2 separate regions of the Homo sapiens genome follow, and region 1 is linked to region 2. The links come from fine-mapping of genetic effects on gene expression. A gene starts in region 2. The other region holds a variant in brackets. All regions are shown on one strand. Distances are between the middles of the regions.

Region 1 (12,639 bases), 46 kb after region 2:
AGGAAGGAAAATTGCCAGGAATAGAGTGGCATTACATAATGGTAGAGGGGTCAGTTCTCTAAGAAGATAGAAAAATCGCCAGGCCCAGTGGCTCACACCTATAATCCCAGCACTTTGGGAGGCCGAGGTGGGTGGATCACCTGAGGTCAGGAGTTCAAGACCAGCCTGACCAACATGGTGAAACCCCGTCTCTACTAAAAACACAAAAATTAGCCAAATGTGGTGGCACAGGCCTGTAATCCCAGCTATTTGGGAGGCTGAGGCATGAGAATCACTTGGACCCAGGAGGCAGAAGTTGCAGTGAGCCCAGATCACGCCACCACACTCCAGCTTGGGTGACACAGTGAGACTCAGTCTCGGAAAAAAAAAAAGATACGAAAATCTTCAATTAGCTTATGTGCCTACAGCAAAGCATCAAATGTGTGAGGCAAAAACAGACTAGCAAGAAGAAAGACATTCACTGGTGCAGGCAGAAAATTAGTAAGGACATAGTTGAACTGAACAGTGCCGTAAACCAACTAGAATCTTTTTTTTTTTTTTTTTTGGAGACAGAGTCTCACTCTGTCGCCCAGGCTGAAGTTCAGTAGCGTGATCTCAGCTCACTTCAACCTCCAACTCCTGGTTCAAACGATTCTCCAGCCTCAGCCTCCCAAGTAGCTGGGACTACAGGCACCCGCCACCACCCCAGCTAATTTTTGGGTTTTTTTGTTTGTTTGTTTTTGTTTTCATTTTTTTGAGACAGAGTCTTGCTCTGTCGCCCAGGCTGGAGTGCAGTGGCGCGATCTCGCTCACTGCAAACTCTGCCTCCCAGGTTCACGCCATTCTCCTGCCTCAGCCTCCCGAGTAGCTGGGGTTACAGGTGCCCGCCACCACACCCGGCTAATTTTTTGTATTTTTAGTAGAGACGGGGTTTCACCGTGTTAGCCAGGATGGTCTCGATCTCCTGATCTCATGATCCGCCCACCTCGGCCTCCCAAAGTGCTGGGATTACAGGCGTGAGCCACCACACCCGGCCCAATTTTTGTATTTTTCTTAGAGATAGGGTTTCACCATGTTGGCCAGCATGGTCTCGAGCTCCTGACCTCAAGTGATCTGCCTGCCTTGGCTTCCCAAAGTGCTGGGATTACAGGCGTGAGCCACCTCTCCTGGCAACCAGCTAGATGATTGACATTTATAAAATACTTCATCTGTTGCTGCGTGTGGTGGCTCATGCCTGTAATCCCAGCACTTTGGGAGGCCAAGGCAGGCAGATCAAGAGGTCAGGAGTTTGAGACCAGCTTGGCCAGCATAGTGAAACCCCATCTCTACTAAAAATACAAAAATTAGCCGGGTGTGGTGGCACGTGCCTGTAGTCCCAGCTACTTGGGAGGCTGAAGCAGGAGAAATGCTTGAACCCTGGAGGCAGACGTTGCAGCAAACCAAGATTGCGCCACTGCACTCCAGCCTGGGCGACAAAGCGAGACTCTGTCTCAGAAAAAAAAAACAGATAATTTCCTCCTAAGGTAGGAACAAGGCAAGGGTTGTCATTTCTTATCCTCCTATTCAACATCATAGTGGAAGTCCTAGCTAGTGCAATAAAACAAGAAAAGGGAAAGCAGGTATACACATTGGAAAGGAATAAATAAAATTGTCTTTGTTTATGGAAAACATGATCATCTTTGTAGAAAATCCCAAAGAGGCTGGGCTCTGTCACTCACACCTGTAATCACAGCACTTTGGGAAGTTGAGGCAGGCTGATTGCTTGAGCCCACGTGTTTGAGACCAGCCTGGGCAACATGGTGAGGCCCCATTTCTATAAAAAATACAAAAATTAGCCGGGCTTGGTAACACCCACCTGTAATTCCAGCTACTCAGGATGTGGAGGTGGGAGGATCTCTTGAGCCCAGGAGATTGAAGCTGCAGTAAGCCGAGATCACGCCAGTATACTCCAGCCTGGGTGACAGAAGGAAACCTTGTCTCAAAAAAAAAAAAAAAGGAAAAATTGCACACATAAGAGGAGTGAAAGAGAAGCAAACCCAGCACTTGCACCTCTTGGTATAGACCTACTAGAAGTGTGTAGGCCAGGTTGGGCACAAATGACTCGAGCACAACATATCCTGACCACCAAAACCAAAAACAACCTGTAAGTCTTTTCAACAGTAGAATGGACAATTGTGGGCTGGGTGCAGTGCCTCACGCCTATAATCCCAGCACTTTGGGAGGCCGAAGCGGGTGGATCACCTGAGGTCAGGAGTTCGAGACCAGCCTGGCCAACATGGAGAAATCCTGTCTCTCCTAAAAAATACAAAAATTAGCCGGGCGTGGTGGTGCATGCCTGTAATCCCAGCTACTCAGGAGGTTGAGACAGGAGAATCGCTCGAATCCGGGAGGCGGAAGTTGCGGTGAGCCAAGATCGTGCCATTGCACTCCAGTCTGGGCAAGAAGATTGAAACTCCATCTCAAAAAAAATAAAGGCTGGGCACGGTGGCTCACGCCTGTAATCCCAGCACTTTGGGAGGCTGAGGCGGGTGGATTGCCTGAGGTCAGGAGATCGAGACCATCTTGGCTAACACAGTGAAACCCCGTCTCTACTAAAAATACAAAATTAGCCGGGTGTGGTGGCAGGCACCTGTAGTCCCAGCTACTAGGGAGGCTGAGGCAGGAGAATGGCAGGAACCCAGGAGGCGGAGGTTGCAGTGAGCCAAGATCACACCACTGCACTCCAGCCTGGGCAACAGAGCGAGACTCTGTCTCAAAAAAAAAAAAAAAAAAAAAAAAGGACAATTGTGGTGTATTTATATAACAAAGTGCTATGTATTATAGCAATGGAAATGAACAAACTTCAGGTACATGAAGGAACATGGGTGAATTTCACAAACAAGAAGCCAGACACAAGCATAGCTCCACACACAGAAATTTCAAACAGGCAAAACTATATGACAGCTGTTTAAAAAACTAAATGAGGGGCCGGGCACAGTGGCTCACACCTGTAATCTCAGTGCTTTGGGAGGCCAAGGCTAGAGGATCACTTGAGACCAGGAGTTCTAGACCAGCCTGGGCAACAAAGCAAGACACAGTCTCACTTTTTCTTTTCTTCTTTTCTTTTCTTTCCTTTTTCCTTTCCTTTCCTTTTTTTCTTTTGTTTTTTCCTTTTTTTTGACAGTCTTTCTTTATCACTCAGGCTGGAGTGCAGAGGTGTGATCTCACCTCACTCCAATCTCTGCCTCCCGGGTTCAGGCTATCCTCCCATTTTAGCCTCCTGAGTAGCTGGGACTACAGGCGCCCGCCACCACGCCCGGCTAATTGTATTTTTAGTAGAGATGGGGTTTCACTATGTTGCCCAGGCTGGTCTCCAACTCCTCAACTCAAGTCATCTACCTGCCTCAGCCTCCCAAAGTGCTGGGATTACAGGCGTGAGCCAACAGGCTCGGCCAAGACCCTGTTTCTTAAAACTAAACTGTGGTATTAGAATCAGAATAGCACACACTTCTGGATAGAGGGAAGAGGTGGCACTTGGAAAGGGACATGGCGGGGGCTTTCTGGGGGTGCTGGCAGTGTTCTAGTCTTTGCCTGGTGGGGTTCATACCAGGCATTTGCTTCATGATAGTTTAATCAGCCAGACCAGGCAGGCGGATCACCTGAGGTCTGAGTTTGAGACCAGCCTGGCCAACATGGCCAAACCCCATCTGTACTAAAAATACAAACATTAGCCGGGCATGGTGGCGGGCACCTGTAATCCCAGCTACTTGGGAGGCTGAGGCAGGAGAATTGCTTGAACTCAGGAGGCAGAGGTTGCAGTGAGCCTAGATGGCGCCACTGCACTCCAGCCTGGGCAACAAAGCAAGGCTCCATCTCAAAAAATAATAATAATAAAAATATCAGCTGAACGTTCAAGTTTTTTTTTTTTTTTTTTTTTTTTTTTGAGACGGAGTCTCGCTCTGTCACCCAGGCTGGAGTGCAGTGGCGCGATCTCAGCTCACTGCAAACTCCGCTTCCCGGGTTCACGCCATTATCCTGCCTCAGCCTCCTGAGTAGCTGGGACTACAGGCGCCCGCCACCGCACCCGGCTAATTTTTTGTATTTTTAGTAGAGACGGGGTTTCACCGTGGTCTCGATCTCCTGACCTCGTGATCCGCCTGCCTCGGCCTCCCAAAGTGCTGGGATTACAGGCGTGAGCCACCACGCCCGGCCCTGAACATTCAAGTTTTATGTAATTTCCTGGAGGTGTATTATATTCACAATAAAAAGGGTTCCAAAGTGGGGTACAGTGGTGCATTCCTGTAGTCAGAACAACACAGGAGACTGAGACAGGAGGATCGCTTGAGCCCACCTCGGCCTCCCAAAGTGCTGGATTACAGGTGTGAGCCACCGTGCCCGGCCCTTTTTTTTTTTTTTTATCAGATAGAATATTTGTCCTTAATTCACACTTTCCAGGAAACCCTGATGTTTCTTAGAGAGTCTATGAAGAACTCTGGGATAGTCCTAAGGAAATGCAAATTAGGACAACCCCGCGGTATCGCGTTACACCTGGTATCTATTATGAAACCCAGCGCACAGCCAGGCTGTGACCGTGAACTCCACTCCCACACTGCTGCGGCGGCCAGAAATCACTGGCAGGAGCTGCATGAGAACTCCCACTCCTGGGCATCTATCCTGAGGTGACAACTCAAAGAAAAGTGCTCCAAGTACAAAGGTGTTTAAACTGGTGTTATTTATAACAGCAAGAAAAGTGGAAACCATCCAAGCCTGACACCAGGGCGGGCTGGTGGATCCCCCAGGGTGCCACTCCACAGCCACCGGGGTTCACGCACAGCAATTACTTTTCCCTACTCCTGAATTTACTTCCAACCGCACATACACCAGCAACTACAACGTAGACAACAAAACATTGTCGCTTAGCCACCACCAAATTGGACTGTAGATTCTTTTTTTTTTTTAGATGGAATTTCGCTCTTGTTGCCCAGGCTGGAGTGCAGTGGTGTGATCTCGGCTCACTGCAACCTCTGCCTCCTGGGTTCAGGTGATTCTCCTGCCTCAGCCTCCAAAGTAGCTAGGATTACAGGCGCCCGCCACCACGCCCAGCTAATTTTTTTTTTTTTTTTTTTTTTTAGTAGAGATGGGGTTTTACCATGTTGGTCAGGCTGGTCTTGAACATCTGACCTCAGGTGATTCACCTGCCTTGGCCTCCCAAAGTGTTGGGATTACAGGCGTCAGCCACCGCGCCCGGCCTGTAGATTCTTTCAATGATCTTTTATTCATGTTAATTTTTCCTCTCAAGCATCTCTTGGCAAGAGGAATTAGCAAAGAGGTTTGAAAGGTCTCTAGGGGCATCGTTGGCAGTTCTCCCAAACCAGAAATTTTCGAGGACCAAGTGATGTTGCAGAAGCATGTTGAACAAGCACTTCAGGCAGGGGGTTTCGCCTCAGTGATCAGAGGTGCTGGCGTCCCTGGGAAGAAAACCTTCAAGACCTCCAACCATCTGAGGACATTTTCTCCACATCCTTTTGGCTGTCTCTCCTGACTGTATATTACAGACATAAAATGTCTTTCAAAATATCTGTAGAAGACCAAACAAAGGATCTAACATGGACTGTGCACCGAGCACACGCCAGGCGTGAGTCGGGAGTTTCACACATTGAGTTGAGTGCAGGTGAGGACACTGGAGATTCTAGGAGTGGTATGGCTGTCTCTATTTTCTTGCTGTGTGACCTTGAACAAGCTACTTAAACTCTCTGGGCCATTGCTTCCTCACCTGTAAAATGGGAATAATTCATACCTTTACCTCCCAGCTCTGTGTAGAGAGGGCTCTGGAGTCAGATGATTTGGCCTGTAGTCCTGATGCTGCCCCATACTCTGTGTGACTTTAGCAGGGGGTCATTTCACCCCCGAGGCTGGAAGCAGAAGGTAGCTCTGTACCTGCTTCACCTGCAGGAGGTAAGGCCAGTGGCTTTGTGCAGGGCTGG[C/G]TTAGAGAGAGCGGGTGACAACTCCTGCCTGCTCCAGGCTGCCCAAGTGCCTTTCCTGCCCCTTTCAGGTTCATCCACACCAGCTCCTCCACTGCCACTGCCTCCTGAGGTCCCCAGCTCCCTCCTCAGAGCCTTGACACTGGAGATGGAGGTATCACCTTGGGGACCCCGACTGCAGCCTGCCACCTCCTTGGTCGCCTCCTCTGTAAAATGACCCGCCAAGCTACACTGATGCACAGGCCACCGTGCATGTGGGGGCAGCTGGCTGCTTTCTGAGCCTCCCAGGAAGGGGCTGGTAAATGAGGGGGCTCCCTGGGCCTCTTGTCCCCCTTTGCAATGGCAAAGCAGTGATCACAAATGTCCAAAAACATGTGACCTGATAAAGAAGCAAACTTCTAAAGGCCTGGGCTGGACACTCACCTAAGAAGCAAGGCCAGGCAAGCTCCTGCCGTGGAGGGTGCAGCCCACCGTGGCAGCTCGTCTAGGGCCAGATTGGGCTTAGACTCAGGAAGTCCTGGGTTGGAGCCCGGCTCTAACATTTCCCCTCGGGTTAAGTCCTTTTGTATGTCGGAGCCTCCGTGTCCTGTCCGTGGGGCAGGGACAAAGGCAGTGCTGCCCTCACTGGGCGTTAGAGGAGTACCCGGGACCTTGTTGGAGCCGCACCTAGCAGGGTAAATTTGACTCGATTCCCACGCCACGCTCCGATCGGGCTTGGCGCCATGCGGTTTAGCCACAGCGTTTTGTGGGTCCCCACCCCGACCGCTCCCAGGGGTTTTCTTTCTGTCGCAGGCCACGGACTGTTTGCAAGAGGGCGCATCCTTGAATCCTGAGGCCCAGAGGGGAACACGTGAGCGCCCAGGGTCCCCGAGTGTGGAGGCAGCGGAGAGCCGGGCGGGGTGCCTGCTTCCCTTCGCTGAACGCGGCGGGGCGCGGCCTCACGGCCAGGGGTTGGTCCGGGCCTCGGGAGGAGCCCATTCGCCGCCTCCCGCCTCCGCCGCCTGTCCTTGGGCCTCGCTGCCTCCCCCGGCCCTGGAGACCGGGGTCGCCCCCTCCACCTGGGGCCTGCCCTGCAGGATTCTCACCGGGAATCCCAGAGGTCCAGCCTCTGCTTTCCTTCCCAGCGACGCGCAGCTCAGTATCTCACCAGCAGTGCGATTTGTCACCAAATGGAAGAGCCGTGTCCCCGTGGTGTCTGTGGCAAAGACTCCGAGTTGTCTCCCACATGGCCACGCACCCTACTTGAGAAAAAGGGCGTGCTGGATGAGCGTTCTGGGTGTGCATTCGGTGCCTTGCAATGGTCTGCAGACTCGGGAGAGGGAACAGCAAGTGTCTTCAACCACCAAACAGGGAGAGTGCCACACCCGAGGGAGGGCAGAGCAACAGGAAGGAGAGGGCCAGGGCCTCCCTGCCCACTCGGGACAGCTACTGCTCCAGCTGCAAGCGAAGACTAACTCCCCTCTCTCTTGCTCTAGCAAGAACCCGCTCTCAAACTACTCTGGCAGCATGAGCCAGGCCCATTGTTCTGTAACTGGCAATCATCCCATTTCCAACTATTTAACAAGAGCTTACTACGGCCTCGAGTACCAGGCTGTTGGCAGTGGGTTACACTGGAGTAACAAGTCACTCCAATCACAGTGTTGCACGGTGCACGCAGTTTCCCTCCCTCCCTCCCTCCCTTCTTCCTCCTCTTCTCTTTCTTCTTTCTTTCCCTTTTTCTTTCTCCTTCCTTTTTTCCTTCCTTCCTTCCTTCCTTTCTTCTTTCCTTCTCCTCTCCTTTCTCTTTCTTTTTTTTTTCTTTTTCTTTTTTTTTTTTTGAGACAGAGTCTTGCTCTGTCACCCAGGCTGGAGTGCAGTGGCACAATCTCGGCTCACTGCAACCTCCGCCTCCTGGGTTCAAGCGATTCTTCTGCCTCAGCCTCCCGAGTAGCTGGGACTACAGGCACCCGCCACCACGCCCGGCTAATTTTTTGTATTTTAGTAGAGACGGGGTTTCACCATGTTGCCCAGGCTGGTCTCGAACTCCTGACCTCGTGATCCAACCGCCTCGGCCTCCCAAAGTGCTGGGATTACAGGCATAAGCCACTGCGCCCGGCCTTTCTCTTTCTTTCTTCCTTCCTTCCTTTTCTTTCTTTTCTTCTTTCTTTCTCCTTCCTTTCTTCCTTCCCTTCCTCCCTCCCTCCTTTCTTTCTTTACTTTTTTTTTTCTTTTCTTTCTTTTCTTTTTCTTTTCTTTTTTTTTTTTTTTTTTTGAGACGGAGTCCCTCTGTTGCCCAGGCTGGAGTGCACTGGCACGATCTTGGCTTACTGCAACCTCTGCTTTCCGGTTCTGGCAATTCTCCTGCCTCAGCCTCCCGAGTAGCTGGCACTACAGGCATGCGCCATCATGCCCGGCTAATTTTTTTTTTAATTTTTAGTAGAGACAGGGTTTCACCATGTTGGCCAGGCTAGTCTCAAACTCCTGACCTCAGGTGATCCACCCGCCTTGGCCTCTCGAAGTGTTGGGATTACAGCCATGAGCCACTGGGCCCGGCCCCTCCCTCCCTCCCTCCCTCCCTTTCTTTCTTTTTCTTTCATTTTCTTTCTTTATGTTTCAGAGACAGGGCTTTGCTATGTTGCCCACGCTGGTCTTGAACGTGTGGCCTCAAACTATCTACCCGCCTCAGCCTTCCAAAGTGCTGGGAGTACAGGTGTGAGCCACCATGCCCAGCCAAACACACATTTCTTGGTGTCAGCCAGGGCTGGCTGTTGCCCTGCTCCCCCTCTAAGGCACACCTTCCAACACAACAGTGCTTTTTTCTTAATTTACAGTGGCAGCGGTGGTGCGGGGGAGGGCATATATGTAATTTCCTCAATGGAGGCTTCTCCTACCCCATGTGCCTTGCTGTGACCTGTGACCTATAAGCCCTCCCAAAGGGAGAAGTGAGAAGCAGATCTTCATAGGACCCTCCAGCCTCACTCTTCTGCTGGACACACGGGTGGCAGGTGAGTGCCCACAGTCCCACTTCCAGCCAGCAGCCCTACTTCAAGCCCTTGGATCACCCAACTCCCAAGGTCCAGCCTGCGCACTCCCTAGGCTGCCAGTCACTTGCAGGGACCCCCATCACCACCTCCCAGGCTTCTGAGAGAATCCACGTGTCCAGCCTGTCCAGGCTTCCTGACCCTGTTCTCTCCCTCCCTCTAGTCCTTAGCTGATTGGACTGGAGATAGATGTCTGATCCAGGCTGAGTCCACTGGAACATTCAATAATTTGAAAAAGCTGGGAGCGGTGGCTCACATCTGTAATTCCAACACTCTGGGAGACTGAGGTGGGAGGATCGCTGGAGGCCAGGAGTTTGGGCAACATGGTGAGATCCTGTCTCTAGAAAAAAATACAAAAGTTAGCTGGGTGTGGTGGTACATGGCTGAGGTCTTAGCTACTCTGACTGATGTCAGAGAATCGCTTGAGCCCAGGAGGTTGAGGCAGCAGTGAGCTGTGATTGCACCACTGCACTCCAGCCTGGGTGACAGAGCAAGACCCTGTCTTAAAAAAAAAAAAAAAGAATTTGAAAAAGGCCACAGATATGAGGTAGAACATCAGAGCTCAGTTAATAGAAGCAGAAATAATAACAATAACAATAAAGGCAGCTAAGGTTTATCCGGCACCTCTGGCAGGGCTCAGCGATCTCTGACGACCCTCTGAGATGGGTAATTGGCAGGTAGTCTTGAGAGGTGACAGCATGCTGGCAGTCCTCACAGCCCTCGCTCGCTCTGGGCGCCTCCTCTGCCTGGGCTCCCACTTTGGCGGCACTTGAGGAGCCCTTCAGCCCGCCGCTGCACTGTGGGAGCCCCTTTCTGGGCTGGCCAAGGCCGGAGCCGGCTCCCTCAGCTTGCGGGGAGGTGTGGAGGGAGAGGCGCGGGCGGGAACCCGGGCTGCGCGCGGTGCTTGCCGGCCAGCGCGAGTTCCGGGTGGGCGTGAGCTCGGCAGGCCCCGCTGGCTCTGGGCAGTGAGGGGCTTAGCACCTGGGCCAGCAGCTGCTGTGCTCAATTTCTCGCCGGGCCTTAGCTGCCTTCCCTCCGGGCAGGGCTCGGGACCTGCAGCCCGCCATGCCTGAGCATCCCCCCTCCCTCTGTGGGCTCCTGTGCGGCCCTAGCCTCCCCGACGAGCGCCGCCCCCTGCTCCACGGCGCCCAGTCCCATTGACCACCCAAGGGCTGAGGAGTGCGGGCACAGGGCACGGGACTGGCAGGCAGCTCAACCTGTGGCCCCGGTGTGGGATCCACTGGGTGAAGCCAGCTGGGCTCCTGAGTCTGGTGGGGACTTGGAGAACCTTTATGTCTAGCTAAGGGATTGTAAATACACCAATCGGCACTCTGTATCTAGCTCAAGGTTTGTAAACACACCAATCAGCACCCTGTGTCTAGCTCAGGGTTTGTGAATGCACCAATGGACACTCTGTATCTAGCTACTCTAGTGGGAACTTGGAGAACCTTTGTGTCCACACTCTGCATCTAGCTAATCTGGTGGGGACGTGGAGAACCTTTGTGTCTAGCTCAGGGATTGTAAACGCACCAATCAGCGCCCTGTCAAAACAGACTGCTGGGCACTCTGTAAAATGGACCAATCAGCAGGATGTGGGTGGGGCCAGATAAGAGGATAAAAGCAGGCTGCCTGAGCCAGCAGTGGCAATCCTCTGGGGTCTCCATAGCAATCCTGTGGGGTCTCCATACATATTGTGGAAAATTTGTTCTTTTGCTCTTTGCAGTAAATCTTGCTGCTGCTCACTCTTTGGGTCCACACTGCCTTTATGAGCTGTAACACTCACGGGGAAGGTCTGCAGCTTCACTCCTAAAGCCAGCGAGACCACCAACCCACCAGGAGGAGCGAACAACTCTAGACGCGCCGCCTTAAGAGCTGTAACACTCACCACGAAGGTTTGCAGCTTCACTCCTGAGCCGGGAAGACCACGAACCCCACCAGAAGGAAGAAACTCCGAACACATCCGAACATCAGAAGGAAAAAACTCCGGACACGCCGCCTTTAAGAACTGTAACACTCACCACGAGGGTCCACGGCTTCATTCTTGAAGTCAGTGAGACCAAGAACCCACCAATTCCGGACACAGTTTGAGGCAGAAACAGGCCAGAGAAGTGAAGCGTCTGCCTGAGGTTATGGGGGCATGCCTCCTGAAGCAGTCAGCTGTGGCTTCTTCCACTTTTGGTGGATGAGTCTTCACCCCAACCCCTGAGGCATCTGGATAGGGCCCAGGGCTGCTTCCTTTCTGGTCCCTAACAGCCAGCCCAGAGGATGTGGCTGAAGAGATGCAATCAGTAGCCTCAGTCTCACACTCTACAGGGGGGAGAAGCGAGCACCAGCTGAAGGCCAGAAAAGCCATCCCTCAACTGTGCTGTGTTTGCTGCTACCAGAGCTGAGGGGTTTGATCCTAATAGCCCTCCATAGAGGAGGAAACAGAGGCATAAAGAAGTAAACTGGCATCCGGGCGTGGTGGCTTATGCCTGTAATTCCAGCACTTTGGGAGGCCGAGGAGGGGAGATCCCAGCACTTCGGGAGGCTGAGGCAGGAGAATTGCTCAAACCTGGGAGGAGGAGGTTTCAGTGAGCCAAGACAGTGCCATCGCACTCCAGTATAGGCAACAAGAGCAAAACTCCATCTCAAAAACAAACAAGTAGTCTGGACCAGGTGCGGTGGCTCACACCTGTAATCCCAGCACTTTGGGAGGCCAAGGTGGGTGGATCACATGAGGTCAGGAGATCGAGACTAGCCTGGCCAACATGGTGAAACCCTGTCTCTGCTAAAAATGCAAAAATTACCTGGGCGTGGTGGCACATGCCTGTAATTCCAGCTACTCGGGAGGCTGAGGTAGGAGAATGCTTGAAATCAGGAGGTGGAGGTTGCAGTGAGCCGAGATCACGCCATTGCACTCCAGCCTGGGCAACGAGTGAAATTCCATCTCAAAACAACAACAACAAAAACTACACCAGGTGTGGTGGCTCACACCTGTAATCCCAGCATTTTGGGAGGCTGAGGTGGGTGGATCACCTGAGGTCAGGAGTTCGAGACCAGCCTGACCAACACGGTGAAACCCTGTCTCTACTAAAAATACAGAAATAGCTGGGCATGGTGGCCCATGCCTGTAATCCCAGCTACTCAGGAGGCTGTGACGGGAATCGCTTGAACCTGAGAGGCGGAGGTTGCAGTGAGCTGAGATCGTGAGCGCAGTGAGCTGCACTCCAGCCTGGGTAACAGAGCGAGACTCCATTTCAAAAAAACCCAAAACGAAACAACAACCCCACCACACCTGCTTCTGACCTTGGCTCTGCCACTGACCAGCTGTGTGACCACAGACAGGGCCGGACCTGGTGAAGCTGTTTCCACATGTGTGATACAGGTGAGTGCTGTGCCAGGCTCACAGGAGTGTCTTGTACTCTGAAGTGATGGGTACAAAGGTCCTGGTAGCCAGGGCAGCTCGGTGAGATGGTGCTGTTCCTACTGTTATCCCTCCACCAAAGGACTCAGGCAGGAGGCTGGCATCACCCTGTCCCACAGGAGGGTCTCATCTCCTTGACCTTCCCAGCTTTACCCAGGCTCTGCCTCTGCGTCTTCTCTGGGCTACAGAAAGCCATGGAAATGGGGAGCTCATTCTCCCTCAGGCTTCTCCAGGAGCCCAGATTCACCCAAGTCAGAGGTTTTATGCAGTGGGA
Region 2 (12,639 bases):
GAGACTCTGTCTCAACAAAAAAAGGAAAAAAAATTTGATAAATGTGTTTTCTTGGGATATGAGATAATTACGCACACTTTCCTCAGGGGAAGACTGAGGCCGAGAAGAATAAAGCTCTTGCGGCCAGGCATGGTGGCTCACGCCCGTAACCCAGCACTTGGGGAGGCTGAGGTGTGCAGATCACCTGAGGTCAGGAGTTCGAGACCAGCCAACATAGTGAAACACAGTCTCTACTAAAAATACAAAAAAAATTACCCAGGCATGGTGGCTCATGCCTGTAGTCCCAGCTACTCGGGAGGCTGAGGCACGAGAATCGCTTGAACCCGGAGGCGGAGGTTGCAGTAAGCCGAGATCTCACCACTGCACTCTAGCCTGGGCAACAGAGTGAGACTCGGTCTCAAAAAAGAAAAGAGAAAAGCTCTTGCGTTAACCTGTGTGTGCCAGGCTGTACTTGTGCATGGAAACTCTCAGAACACCCACCAGCCCCATGCTTATTGTCAGGCACCATGCCCTGAGTAAAGCACTAGGCCAAGCCACAGCAGCTGGAAATGGTGGAGAAGAGAAGGCTCAGTCCTGGCACAACATCTGCTTGCATCTGAAGGCAGGAACATTCCTGGGAAGACAGCAGGGCTAGCTGAAAGGTAAGTGGAAAGGAGACATTGGCACCTTATGAAAGAGAAAAAAGAGATTCTTAGAAATTTCCTATGTCATTGAGATGTTAATGTCACCACTTTACAGAAGCAGCAGCCTCCCAGAGATGTGAAGTGAGTTGTTCCAGATCACACAGCAGGCAGCAGAGCTGGCACTAGAAGCCAGATCCCCTGACCATATCTGGTCACTACAGCAGACAGTCCCAATTCTTTTGGCTCCACAGGTGGCCTTGGAGGTCCCACTCTTCTCACGAGTCCTTGATTTTGTTCTTGACATGTCAACTGGAAGAGCATTCAAATTTCCCTGAGTCTGTGTCTCATGGGGAGGCATGAGAAAAAGGCAGAATCAGGAGGCCATTGAAGTAGTCCAGGTAAGAGATTATTTATGTATTCATTCAATAAGTATTTTAAACGCTCTTTATGTGAAAGGCACTGTTGTTAGGGGCTAGGGATAGAGCAGGAAACAAAAAACATGGCCCCTGAGACCAGCGAGCTTACATTCCAGTGGTGGAGAAAGACCATGCACAAGTAAATAAATAAACCAGGTAATTACAGACTGTGTAGTAAGTGTTGTGAAATATGACAAACAACACTTGAAATAAGGTGGACATGGAAGGCCTCAGGCCTGAATAAGAAGGAGCCAGCTGTATTCCAGGCAGAGGAAGTAGCGCATATCAAAGCCCTGACTGTGAACAGTCTGATGAGGCCTGAACTAGTTTAGGAAGTAGGAATGGAAAGAAGGAATGAATCTGTGAATATTTAGAAGGAATAATCAGAAGGACAGACTGAATGCAGTGGTTGAAGGTTGAACTTTGGCACCTCGCTGATGGTGGTGCCACTTGCATTGGGGAAGGAGGAGCAGGTTTTAGGGACAAGCATTTCCCCTCTGGAGGGCTCTCTTTCCCATCTGTACAATAGGTTAATATAACAACCAAGCTTAGTGCTAGGATTTTTGTTTTCGTGGTTTTTTGTTGTTTTTGTGTGTGTGTGTGCATGTGATGGGGTCTCACTCTGACATCCAGGCTTGAGGACAGTGGCATGATCACAGATCACTGCAGCCTCAACCTCCCTGGGCTCAGGAGATCCCCCCCATCTCAGCCTCCCAAGTAGCTGGGACTACAGGCATGCACCGCCATGCCTGGCTAATTTTTTTTGTTGTTTTTTCTGCAGAGACGGGTTTTTGCCATGTTGCCCAGGCCAGATTGCTAGTTCTTAAGAATGTTATGTTCCTCACACTTACTGAATTCCAAATGAATTAAAGATTATGGCCGGGCAAGGTGGCTCACACCTGTAATCCCAGCCCTTTGGGAGGCCCAGGCGGGTGAATCACCTGGAGTTGGAAGTTCAAGACCAGCCTGACCAACGTGGAGAAACCCCATCTCTACTAAAAATACAAAATTAGCTGGGCGTGGTGGCACATGCCTGTAATCCCAGCTACTCAGGAGGCTGAGGCAGGAGAATCACTTGAAACCGGGAGGCAGAGGTTGCAGTGAGCGGGGATCGTGCCATTGCACTCCAGCCTGGGCAACGAGTTAAACTCTGTCTCTAAAATATATATACATAAATTAGCTTGGCATGGTGGCACGGGCCTGTAGTCCCAGCTACTCAGGAGGCTGAGGCAGGAGAACCGTGTGAACCCAGGAGGCACAGGTTGCAGTGAGCCAAGATCATGCCACTGTATTCCAGCCTGGGTGACAGAGCAAAACTCTGTCTCAAAAAATAAAATTGAATTAAATTTAAAAAATAAAATAATAAATAGGAGGTTGGGTGCAGTGGCTCATGCCTGTAATCTCAACACTGGGAGGTCCAGAAGGGAGGATTGCTTGAGCCCAGTTGTTTGTTTGTTTCTTTTTTGAGACAAAGTTTCGCTCTTGTTGCCCAGGCTGGAGTGCAATGGCACAATCTTGGCTCACTGCAGCCTCCGCCTCCTGGGTTCAAGCTATTCTCCTGCCTCAGCCTCCCGAGTAGCTGGGATTATAGGCGCCTGCCACCATGTCTGGCTAATTTTTTGTATTTTTAATAGAGACAGGGTTTCACTATGTTGGCCAGACTGGTCTCGAACTCCTGGCCTCAGGTGATCCACCCACCTCGGCCTCCCAAAGTGCTGGGATTACAGGTGTGAGCCACTGTGCCTGGCCTGAGCCCAGTAGTTTAAGACCAGGCAGGAAAACAACGAGACTCCATCTCTAAAAAAGTAGAATAGGCTGGGCGCTGTGGCCTGTTTTTGAGATGGAGTTTTGCTCTTGTCACCCAGGCTGGAGTGTGATGGCACGATCTCGGCTCACTGCAACCTCTGCCACCTGGGTTCAAGCAATTCTCCTGCCTCAGCCTTTTGAATAGCTGAACTACAGGCCCACACAATCACACCTGGCTAATTTTTTGTATTTTTAGTAGAGATGGGGTTTCCCCATGTTGACCAGGCTGGTCTTGAATCCCTAACCTCAGATGATCCTCCTGCCTCAACCTCCCAAAGCGCTGGGATTACAGGCGTGAACCACCGCACCCAGCCACTAATTATTACTTTCAAAATAGATTTCTTGCCGGGCGCGGTGGCTCACGCCACCTCACCTGAGGTCAGGAGTTTGAGACCAGCCTGGCCAACATGGTGAAACCCAGTCTCTATTAAAGATACAAAAAAATTAGCCAGGCGTGGTGGCACATGCCTGTAATCCCAGCTACTTGGGAGGCTGAGGCAGGAGAATTGCTTGAACCTGGAGGCAGAGACTGCAGTGAGCCAAGATAGTGCCACTACACTCCATCTTGGGCAACAGACCAAGACTCCATCTCAAAAAAAAAAAAAAAAAGCCGGGTACAGTGGCTCACGCCTGTAGTCCCAGCACTCTGGGAGGCCGAGGCAGGCAGATCACGAGGTCAGGAGATCAAGACCAGCCTGGCCAACATAGTGAAACCCCTTCTCTACTAAAATACAAAAAAATTAGCCGGGCGTGGTGGCAGGTGCCTGTAATCCCAGCTACTCTAGAGGCTGAGGAAGGAGAACGCTTGAACCCAGAAGGCGTAGGTTGCAGTGAGCTGAGATCGCACCGCTGCACTGCAGCCTGGGCGACAGTGCGAGACTCAGTCTCAAAAAAAAAAAAAAAAAGTAGAATAAATAAAAATTTAAAAATAAAATCCAGAATCAAAGAAAAATAAAGGATGGATAAATTGATCCCATAAATATCTAATGTTTTTGCATGGCTAAAAAACACTCTTGGCAAAGTCAAAAGTCAACAAATGGAAAAAATATTTGCAACTCATTTGACAAAGAGCTGATTTTCCTAATATATAGTGAGCACCTATGAATAAGAAAAATGGGTAAAGGATATACACAGACAGAAATAGGAAAATATATCTCAAACATATGAAGAAAGACTCATATCTCTGCAAAATATGATATTTGCAAATTAAACCACTTGGAGATAACATTTTTCACCTCTCAGATTGGCAAAGATCAAAAAGTTTGATAACACGGTGTTGATGAGGATATGAGGAAACAGCCACTTAAGGGGAATTGAGCAATAACTTATCAAAACTCTGACCCAAATATCCTATTTCTAGGAATAGATGATATATATAGAGAGAGAGAGAAAGAGAGAGAGAGAAATGCAAAGTTACTGCAGCAGTGTAATAACAAAAGGTTGGAACTTATTTCAATGTCCTTCACCAGGGCACTGGCTAAATAAATTACTGTGTATAAAATGGTATGAACCATAAAACTAGTCCTTTTATACTCTTAAGGAATGATTTTCAAAATATATTTTGTGTAGAACCATATGTATAGTATCCTACTATTTGTTTTATAAGGGTAAATTAACCTCCTAAAGGACATTTCAGAAACTGCCTCTGGGAAGAGAAACTAAGTGGCTGGTGGACAGCGAAGACTTTTCACTGTGTATCATTTGAACCTTGAGTTATCCTTTCAAAATATTCAAAAAACAAAAACAAGCAAAGAAACAAAACCCTTTATGGTTCTAGGTACATGGCGTTAGTGAGAAGGGAACCAATATTTATTGAGCTCTTACCATGTTTCAGACACTGTTCCAAGTACTTTCACATACACTACCCCATTTAGTGACCTGTGTAATCCTTGAGATGGGTATACATTATTCTAATTTTACAGGTTAGAAAATAGACTGGATAGGCCAGGCGCAGTGGCTCACGCCTGTAATCCCAGCACTTTGGGAGGCCAAGGCGGGCGGATCACCTGAGGTCTGGAGTTTGAGACCTGCCTGGCCAATATGGTGAAACTTCCTCTCTCCTAAAAATACAAAAATTAGCCGGGCGTGGGGGCGGGCGCCTGTAGTCCCAGCTACTCTGGAGGCTGAGGCAGGAGAATCGCTTGAACCCGGGAGGCGGAGGTTGCAGTGAGCTGAGGTCGCGCCACTGCACTCCAGCCTGGGCGACCGAGCGAAACTCGTCTCAAAAAAAAAAAAATAGGTTGGATTGTGGTCAAGTAATTTACTCGGCGTCATGCCTAGTCTAGCTCCAAAGCTCCAGCCTTCTCCGCTTCTCACACTGCTTCTATTTAAGCAGTGTCCTCTTAAAAATAATACTGGTCTCATTTATTGGGCACTTGATATGACAAAACTACTAAGTGCTTTATGTACGTATTCTCATATAATTCTCAAGACAACTCTGGAAGGTAGGAACTACTCTCCCCCTTTTACAGAAAAGATAAAGGAGGGTCCGAGACATCGCGCGTAACAAGCCCAAGGTCACGGGTACACAATCGTTTGGAAGCTAGGTTTGATTCCAAAGCTCCAGCTCCGAAATCCAAACCACACCCGGTTCAAAGGACAAAAGCACAAACGCTCGCTCGCTGGGCTCTAGGAGGTGCGGACACTTCCGGGGGAGGGGCGAAGCCAGCTGGCTGCGGAAGGCGGTGCAGGAACCCCTTTGGCGAGCTCGCGCGAGGACGTGCCGCAGCGCCGCCTGTCGATCACCTTGCCCCGCCGCACGTCGGCGCGCCCCCGGGCAAGCTCCTCCCCCAGTCCTGGCCGAGCGGGAAGCGAACGCGCGCTCTCTCCGGTTACCTTCCGCCTCGGGGAAGGGCGGGGGAAGTGGAAGCGCGCGCTCGCGAGCTGCGTGCTCGCGTACGTCGCCGGGGTTCGGCTGCGTCCGTCCCGCCGCCCGCCCGTTGCCGCCGCCGCCGCTGCCGCCGTGCTCTCGCTTTGCCCGCCGCCGCCTAAGGGGGGCTGGGGCCGGGGCCAGCCATCACTGCCGTTGCCGGGATGCCGCGGGTGTACATCGGCCGCCTGAGCTACCAGGCCCGGGAGCGCGATGTGGAGCGCTTCTTTAAGGGCTACGGGAAGATCCTGGAGGTGGATCTGAAGAACGGGTGAGGAGGGCGAAAGAGGGTCCGGCCGGGCGGGGACAGACCCCATAGGTGGTGGGGAGGCCGCGGGGACGGGAGAGGGACGCCTGGTCCGCGCGGAGCGGCTACCGGCCTGGCCAGGCTCCGCCATAGTGGCGGCGCCTCGGGGGCGCGGGTAGGCCCCGGTTCCCACTGCGCCTGCGCGGGTGGGGGTGGTGGAGGCATAATGGGAGCTGTGCTGAGGCCCTGAGTGGGACGGGGAGAAGGAAAGCCCGAGTGGGGCTGGTGCTCCGGGCAGGGGGGCACAGCTCCAGGGCGCCCGGGAGACCTGGGTTTTCCCTTCCTAGGCCCGGAACTGGGGCCCTATTCGTTTCTGGGTAGACACCAACCTTTCCCGCTCTGAGGACTACTGGAAATAAACAGGATTTCCTGCTCCCTTTCACCTCTTGCCCGGTCTCATGGATCAGACGGTCACAGCGCCGTCTTCCCCGAGGACTGGAGCCTTGGAGGGAGGCCCTTTTTAGCCGTGTGCCACGCTTTTTTGGGCGGGAGACTCCAGTTTGAGTAGTCTAGTGACAGTTTCGAAAGTATCGTCTTGCCGTGCTGAAAGCCTTCACCGTTCCCTCTGCAAGAGTAAATTAAAGTCTTAACTTCTTATCTTTAAGACTCCGTGCAGAGTTTCCACGCTGTGGTTTCCGTTTTCCAACTTACCGAAAAATTGCTTGGCCGTTGTAGAATTTGTTAGGAGAATAGTGGCCACCCTGGCTAGTATCTGCGTCTGGTTAACGCAGACGGAGACGAAATTGTTAACTTACTGCCTCCCCCAGAGTATGATCTATTACTTGTATTCTTAATCTACTTCGGCAAAAATAGTGCCAGCATGAGCTACAGGTTTTAGGGAAAACTGTTGAGGAATCAGGCCTGGAGAAAATACTCAACGGGGAAAACTGGGAACCAGATGTTAGGTAGGGCTTGGAAGGCATGGATATAAAATTAAAAGGACTGGGGTGACATTTTAGGGCACTAAACCTTGGGTGTTAGAGAACTCTTGGCTTAAAAAAGAAACTCTACTTTGCAACAGTTGTAATATAGCTACCGTTTACTCCCCAGGGTTATACTAGTAACTGACACCTGAAACATTTTGAAAGTTACCTAAGTATGTTTCACGTATGAGAAAACTGGTAGCTACCGTATTCTCAAATGATGATTTGGGTTTAAAAAGCCATTTCAAATTAATTATTAGAATCGTTTTCTTTCTGAGGACGTCTTTAGTAAAGTACTGATTTCTTTTACAGTAAAAGGCTTTAAAAACTACTCCTTTTCTACAGTAAAACGTTCAGTTCTTAAGGATATATTGAAGTGGCGGGTAGACGTTATTGTATACATACCATATATGTGAAAGTTGAAACTCCAGTTTTTTTCAGAGCCCAGCTAAATTGACAGCATAACTAACTTTTGTGGACAAAGTGTGGATTTTGAAGCCAGCCAGGCCTAAGTCAAATCCTGGTTCCACCACTTACTACGTATGGGCAAGTTACTTCTCTGAACCTGGTTGTTCATTCATGTGGAAAAGGAAGATTAGAGATAATAAATGTAAAGCATTTGGCTTAGGCAGTAAGTGGCAGCTATAATCAGAGGGATGAGGAAACATCTTTGCTTGTTGGTGTTTGATAACATAAAGCGTGTTTGGTGAGGTCTTTTCTAATGTTACTCAGGTGATAGTGTGCAGGAAATGACAAGACTGTTAATGGGAAACTGATTCATCAACCAAATGTATTGATAACCCATCAACAAAATGTCCACCACTGTGCTAAATGAATTGGGGGAGGAGGCAGAAAACAGTTCTGCTCTTGAATAAATTAAGCATTATGACATGTGCACTTTGAATTAAGAAATGTTTGCTTTCGCTTTAAACTCTAGTAAAACTTGGAATGATTTGCTTGAAAAGATGTGTTGAAATGGCTTTGAAGAATAGATTAGAGCTTGAAGTGAAGAAATTTAGGTTTCTGGGAATAGTATATGTCGTAGTTGGGGCTCAGGCATGGTGACTTGTGCCTGCAATCCCAGCTGAAGTGTGAAGATTACTTCAGGCCAGGAGTTTGAGACCAGCCTGACCCCATCTCTAAGAAAAAAATTTTTTTAATTAGCCACGCGTGGTGACACTCGCCTATAGTCCTAGCTACTTCAGAGGATGAGGCAGGAGGATCACTTCAGCCTAGGATTTCAAGGCTACAGTGAGCTATGATTGTGACACTGCACTCCAGTCTGGGTAACAGCAAGACCCCCATCTCTAATAAAATAAGTACAATGCTGACTTTTTTTGCTTTTTGATGAATAGGGAAAAAATATTTTTTTAATGTCATAATTGGTGTTGAAGACATGGTCCAGTAAGAAGCAATTATGAAAAATAATAAACAATCTAGCATGGATCAAGCCTTATGAAGAATCTAGAAATTTAACAACATAAACCAGAAACAACGACTATTAGATTTTACACTAAAAATTCGAAATCAATGAGTAGGAATTCAAAGGCTCTGGAAGGAAGAAGTGAGCAACCCAAAAGGAAGATGGAGCGATAAGAGGAAAGAGCCTTTCAGGACCCTAAATACCTGGGTGGTTTTTTTAAGGAACTGTTCATTCTTACAGTTATGCTGCCAAACCATGATATGCATGAAATGTCATTGAAAGTCAAGGTTGAAATGAAGTCATTTTAGAGTTTCAAAGACAGGTATGACAGTCACCAAACAGCACACAATATGACCTCCTGGCATCATTGAGGAATCATTACAGAGGAAAACGACTTCTGGGAAGAAGACCAATGGTAAAGATGTATTTCAAGCAAAAATTGCCTGTATGGCAAAAACGCTGGAGAGTCTGAAAGGAAGGAGTGAGTACAAAAGAAAAAGCATAACTTAGCTACGTATGTAAGCTTATAGTCCCCTAGCAGAAGGGCAGTGGATCTCCCTACTGGGAAGCATGTTTGAACATATCTAGATTGTGATTAGTAATTGAAACTCAGAGGCCGGGCGCGGTGGCCTGTAATCCCAGCACTTTGGGAGGCCGAGGCGGGCAGATGACGAGGTCAGGAGATCGAGACCATCCTGGTTAAGATGGTGAAACCCCGTCTCTACTAAAAATGAAAATAAAAATTAAAAAAAAGTAGCCGGGCATGGTGGCAGGCACCTGTAGTCCCAGCTACTCGAGAGGCTGAGGCAGGAGAATGGCGTGAACCTGGGAGGTGGAGCTTGCAGTGAGCCGAGATCGTGCCACTGCACTCCAGCCTGGGCGACAGCGAGACTCTGTCTCAAAAAAAAAAGTAATTGAAACTCAGAAACAGATTTTGGATGCTTTAGATAGGTCTTTGAAGAATTGCTGGAGTTCAGATTTGTAGAAGTGAGATGTATCAGTAGATATGTTAGGCTGAAGGGTTGTAAGTTAAGTTTAGAATTAAGGCATAAAATGCTTGTCTAGACCGGTCACGGTGGCTCACACCTGTAATCCCATCACCTTGGGAGGCCGAGGTAGGTGGATCACTTGAAGTCAGGGGTTTGAGACCAGCCTGGCCAACATGGTGAAACCCCATCTCTACTAAAAATACAAAGATTAGCTGGGTGTGGTGGTGGGCACCTGTAATCCCAGCTCCTCTAGAGGCTAAGGCAGGAGAATTGCTTGAACCTGGGAGGTGGAGGTTGCAGTGAGCAGAGATTGCATCACTGCACTCCAACCTAGGCAACAGAGCAAGACTCTGTCTCAAAAAAAAAAAAAAAAAAAAAAAATCTTGTGTAATAGGAAGATGACCAAATAAGGAAACAAATGAGTTCTTCAAAGGAGATTTAGTGTTCAGGAAAGGATTCTATGGACCCTGAGAGGGTTTGGAGAAGAGGTGTGTAAGCAAGAGTTCATTGCCTACCGTTTTATTACACCAGGCATCGCTAATGTAGATTGCCACTGTTCTAGAGAACTTTTTGAAAGATGGTTTGGGACCACAAATACAACGAAGATCTCCCAGGATCATATAGACCATTCCATTTCCCATTAAGGTCTCCTACTTTTCTACCCGCCCCATAAACTTCAAGAGTCACTGCAAGGGCCTGGCACGGTGGCTCACACCTGTAACCCCGGCACTTTGAGAGGCCAAGGCAGGCAGATCACCCAAGGTCATAAGTTCAAGACCAGCCTGACCAACATGGAGAAACCCCTGTCTCTACTAAAAATACAAAGTTAGCCGGGCGTCGTGGCACATGCCTGTAATCCTGGCTACTCGGGAGGCTGAGGCAAGAGAATCACTTGAACCTCAGAGGCATAGGTTGCGGTGAGCCGAGATCCTGCCATTGCACTCCAGCCTGGGCAACAAGAGCAAAACTTCGTCTCAAAAAAAAAAAAAAACAAAAAGAGTTACTGTAGGGAAGGGAGGGGCAGGAATCCTAGATGCACGTCAAGGAAGCAACAATATTAGCAGCACTTGTTTATACCCTTTCAGCTCTGTGGTAACTTTTGTTGGCTTTGATTGTATATAGATTTTATTTTTTATAATAAGCCATTTCATGTAAAGTGTGAAAGAATTTTGAGTACACTAGTTGCCCTTTTGTCATAAAATCTTGTGGTTTTAGTCAGATCTTTATATCTTAGCTTTTCCATATTTTAGTTAATGAGTAAAACTTACCACATATTAAGATTATTTTGCCTGTCTAGTAGCTAGAAGGATAAACCCCCAGATCATTGAAATTTATAGTTTTATTTTTTAGTTCAAGTCATGAATTAAAACTCTCAAGGGAAACTTGGATTTAAACTTCAGAACCTGCGTTTCATGGAACAGTGAAATCATGAATAGCCTGAATTTTCAGGGGATGTTGTGGTCTGTTTAGTCATGCTATCTAATTATTACCAGAAAATTTTTGTTTTCGCCCTTGTTTAATGCACCATAATTTTTTTAATGTGGAGTTCAAGACTCTTCGAGTGAGGCAGGTCGTTGTTGTGTATGTCACTGCTCACTGGAGGGCATTATTAAGCCTTAGATACTGAGAAGAATTACTGCCAACCCCAGCACCTACACAGGGATTTTTCTCTTTTGACTCCTGAATTCTTGACAGATTAGGAAGTATATAGTTAGTTTAATGTTCCAGGTTGCTGGTTTCTGGTTAGATGAGCTGTTACAGTATTTTTTTCTTTTTTTTTTTTTTAAAGTTTTTAGTTTTTAATTCTCCCAAGGCTTCTCCCAAGGCTCTGTCATTCATCGTTACCGTATTCTTAATCATGAGAGGGATTATCTTCACCCACCACCAAGTGGCAGAGAAGTGCTTTATCATTTTTATGATAATGCTATAACTAATGAGTGACAAAAGAAAAAGCAAACACTTTGCCTTTAGGAACCCTACCACCTATTTGTTGTTTTTTTGTTTTTTGTTTTTTGTTTTTTTTGAGATGGAGTCTTGCTCTGTCGCCCAGGCTGGAGTGCAGTGGTACAATCTCAGCTCACTGCAACTTCCGCCTTTTGGGTTCAAGCAATTCTCCTGCCTCAGCCTCCCAAGTAGCTGGGACTACAGGCGCGTGCCACCACGCCCGGCTAATTTTTTGTATTTTTAGTAGAGACAGGGTTTCACCGTGTTAGGCAGGATGGTCTTGATCTCCTGACCTCATGATCCACCTGCCTCGGCCTCCCAAAGTGCTGGGATTACAGGTGTGAGCCACCATGCCCGGCCACCTTTTTGTTTTTAAGCCCTTCTGCCAGCCTCAGAAATAGCATCCCATTTGCACTGGCATGTACAAAGCATTAGAGTCTATGTTAAGAAAAGGAAGACATTTGGTTCTGGATTAATTTTAGGATTATCTAAGAAGAGGTTAAAACAAGTTTTGTTTAAAAGCGTGTTTGAATAACTCTCTTTATGTATAGTTAAAATTAAAGACCCACTCTTAATTTTCAAAGTAGCACATATTTATAATTGGAAATTTTTTTTTTTTTTTTTTTTTTTTTTTTTGAGACAGCGTCTGGCTCTGTCGCCCAGGCTGGAGTGCAGTGGCGCAATCTCGGCTCACTGCAAGCTCCGCCTCCTGGGTTCACGCCATTCTCCTGCCTCAGCCTCTCAAGTAGCTGGGACTACAGGAGCCCGCCACCGCTCCCGGCTAATTTTTTGTATTTTTAGTAGAGACGGGGTTTCACTGTGTTACCCAGGATGGTCTCGATCTCCTGACCTCATGATCCACCCGCCTCGGCCTCCCAAAGTGCTGGGATTACAGGCGTGAGCCACCACGCCCGGCCGGAAATTTTTTTTGAGATGGAGTCTCTGTCTGTTGCCCAGGCTGGAATGCAGTGGCACAATCGTGGCTCACCTCCCAGGTACAAGCGATTCTGCTGCCTCAGCCTCCCAAGTAGCTGGGATTACAGGTGTGCACCACCACCCCCGGCTAATTTTTGTATTTTTTGTAGAAACGGGGTTTCACCACGTTGGCCAGCCTGGTTTTGAACTCCTGACCTCAAAGTGATCTACCTCACAAAGTGCTGGGATTACAGGCGTGAGCCACCACACCTGGCCTATTATAATTTTTTTATATGGAGAAGGACCAAAATAATCCAAAGATGTAACTCTTTGCATTTTGGGTTTTTTAGTTTTACTTTTTTTCACATACAGGTATGGGCATGTGCACGCACGCACTCTGTCTCTCTTCTTTTCTTTTTTTTTT

The links. PIP is the estimated chance that this variant, and not a neighbour inherited with it, causes the effect. A credible set is the group of variants that fine-mapping cannot tell apart.
Region 1: its variant is the best candidate, but not a certain one, in a credible set for the expression of SRSF4 in whole blood (INTERVAL, PIP 0.55).

What each region holds. Positions count from the first base shown.
Region 1 is chr1:29,128,647-29,141,285 of GRCh38, reverse strand. No RefSeq gene overlaps it. Among named protein-coding and RNA genes, the nearest start is that of TMEM200B, 11 kb to the right of the region's middle. The variant C/G (reference allele first, on the strand shown) is at 5,943.
Region 2 is chr1:29,174,992-29,187,630 of GRCh38, reverse strand. SRSF4 (serine and arginine rich splicing factor 4) reads left to right here and starts at 5,731. Exons shown (of 6, transcript NM_005626.5): 1 at 5,731-5,985. The coding sequence starts at 5,879. It also overlaps a transcript of MECR not described here. RefSeq lists enhancers at 1-372, 4,403-5,040, 5,383-5,612, 5,041-5,678, 9,197-9,697 and 1 more and silencers at 5,683-5,892, 5,943-6,132.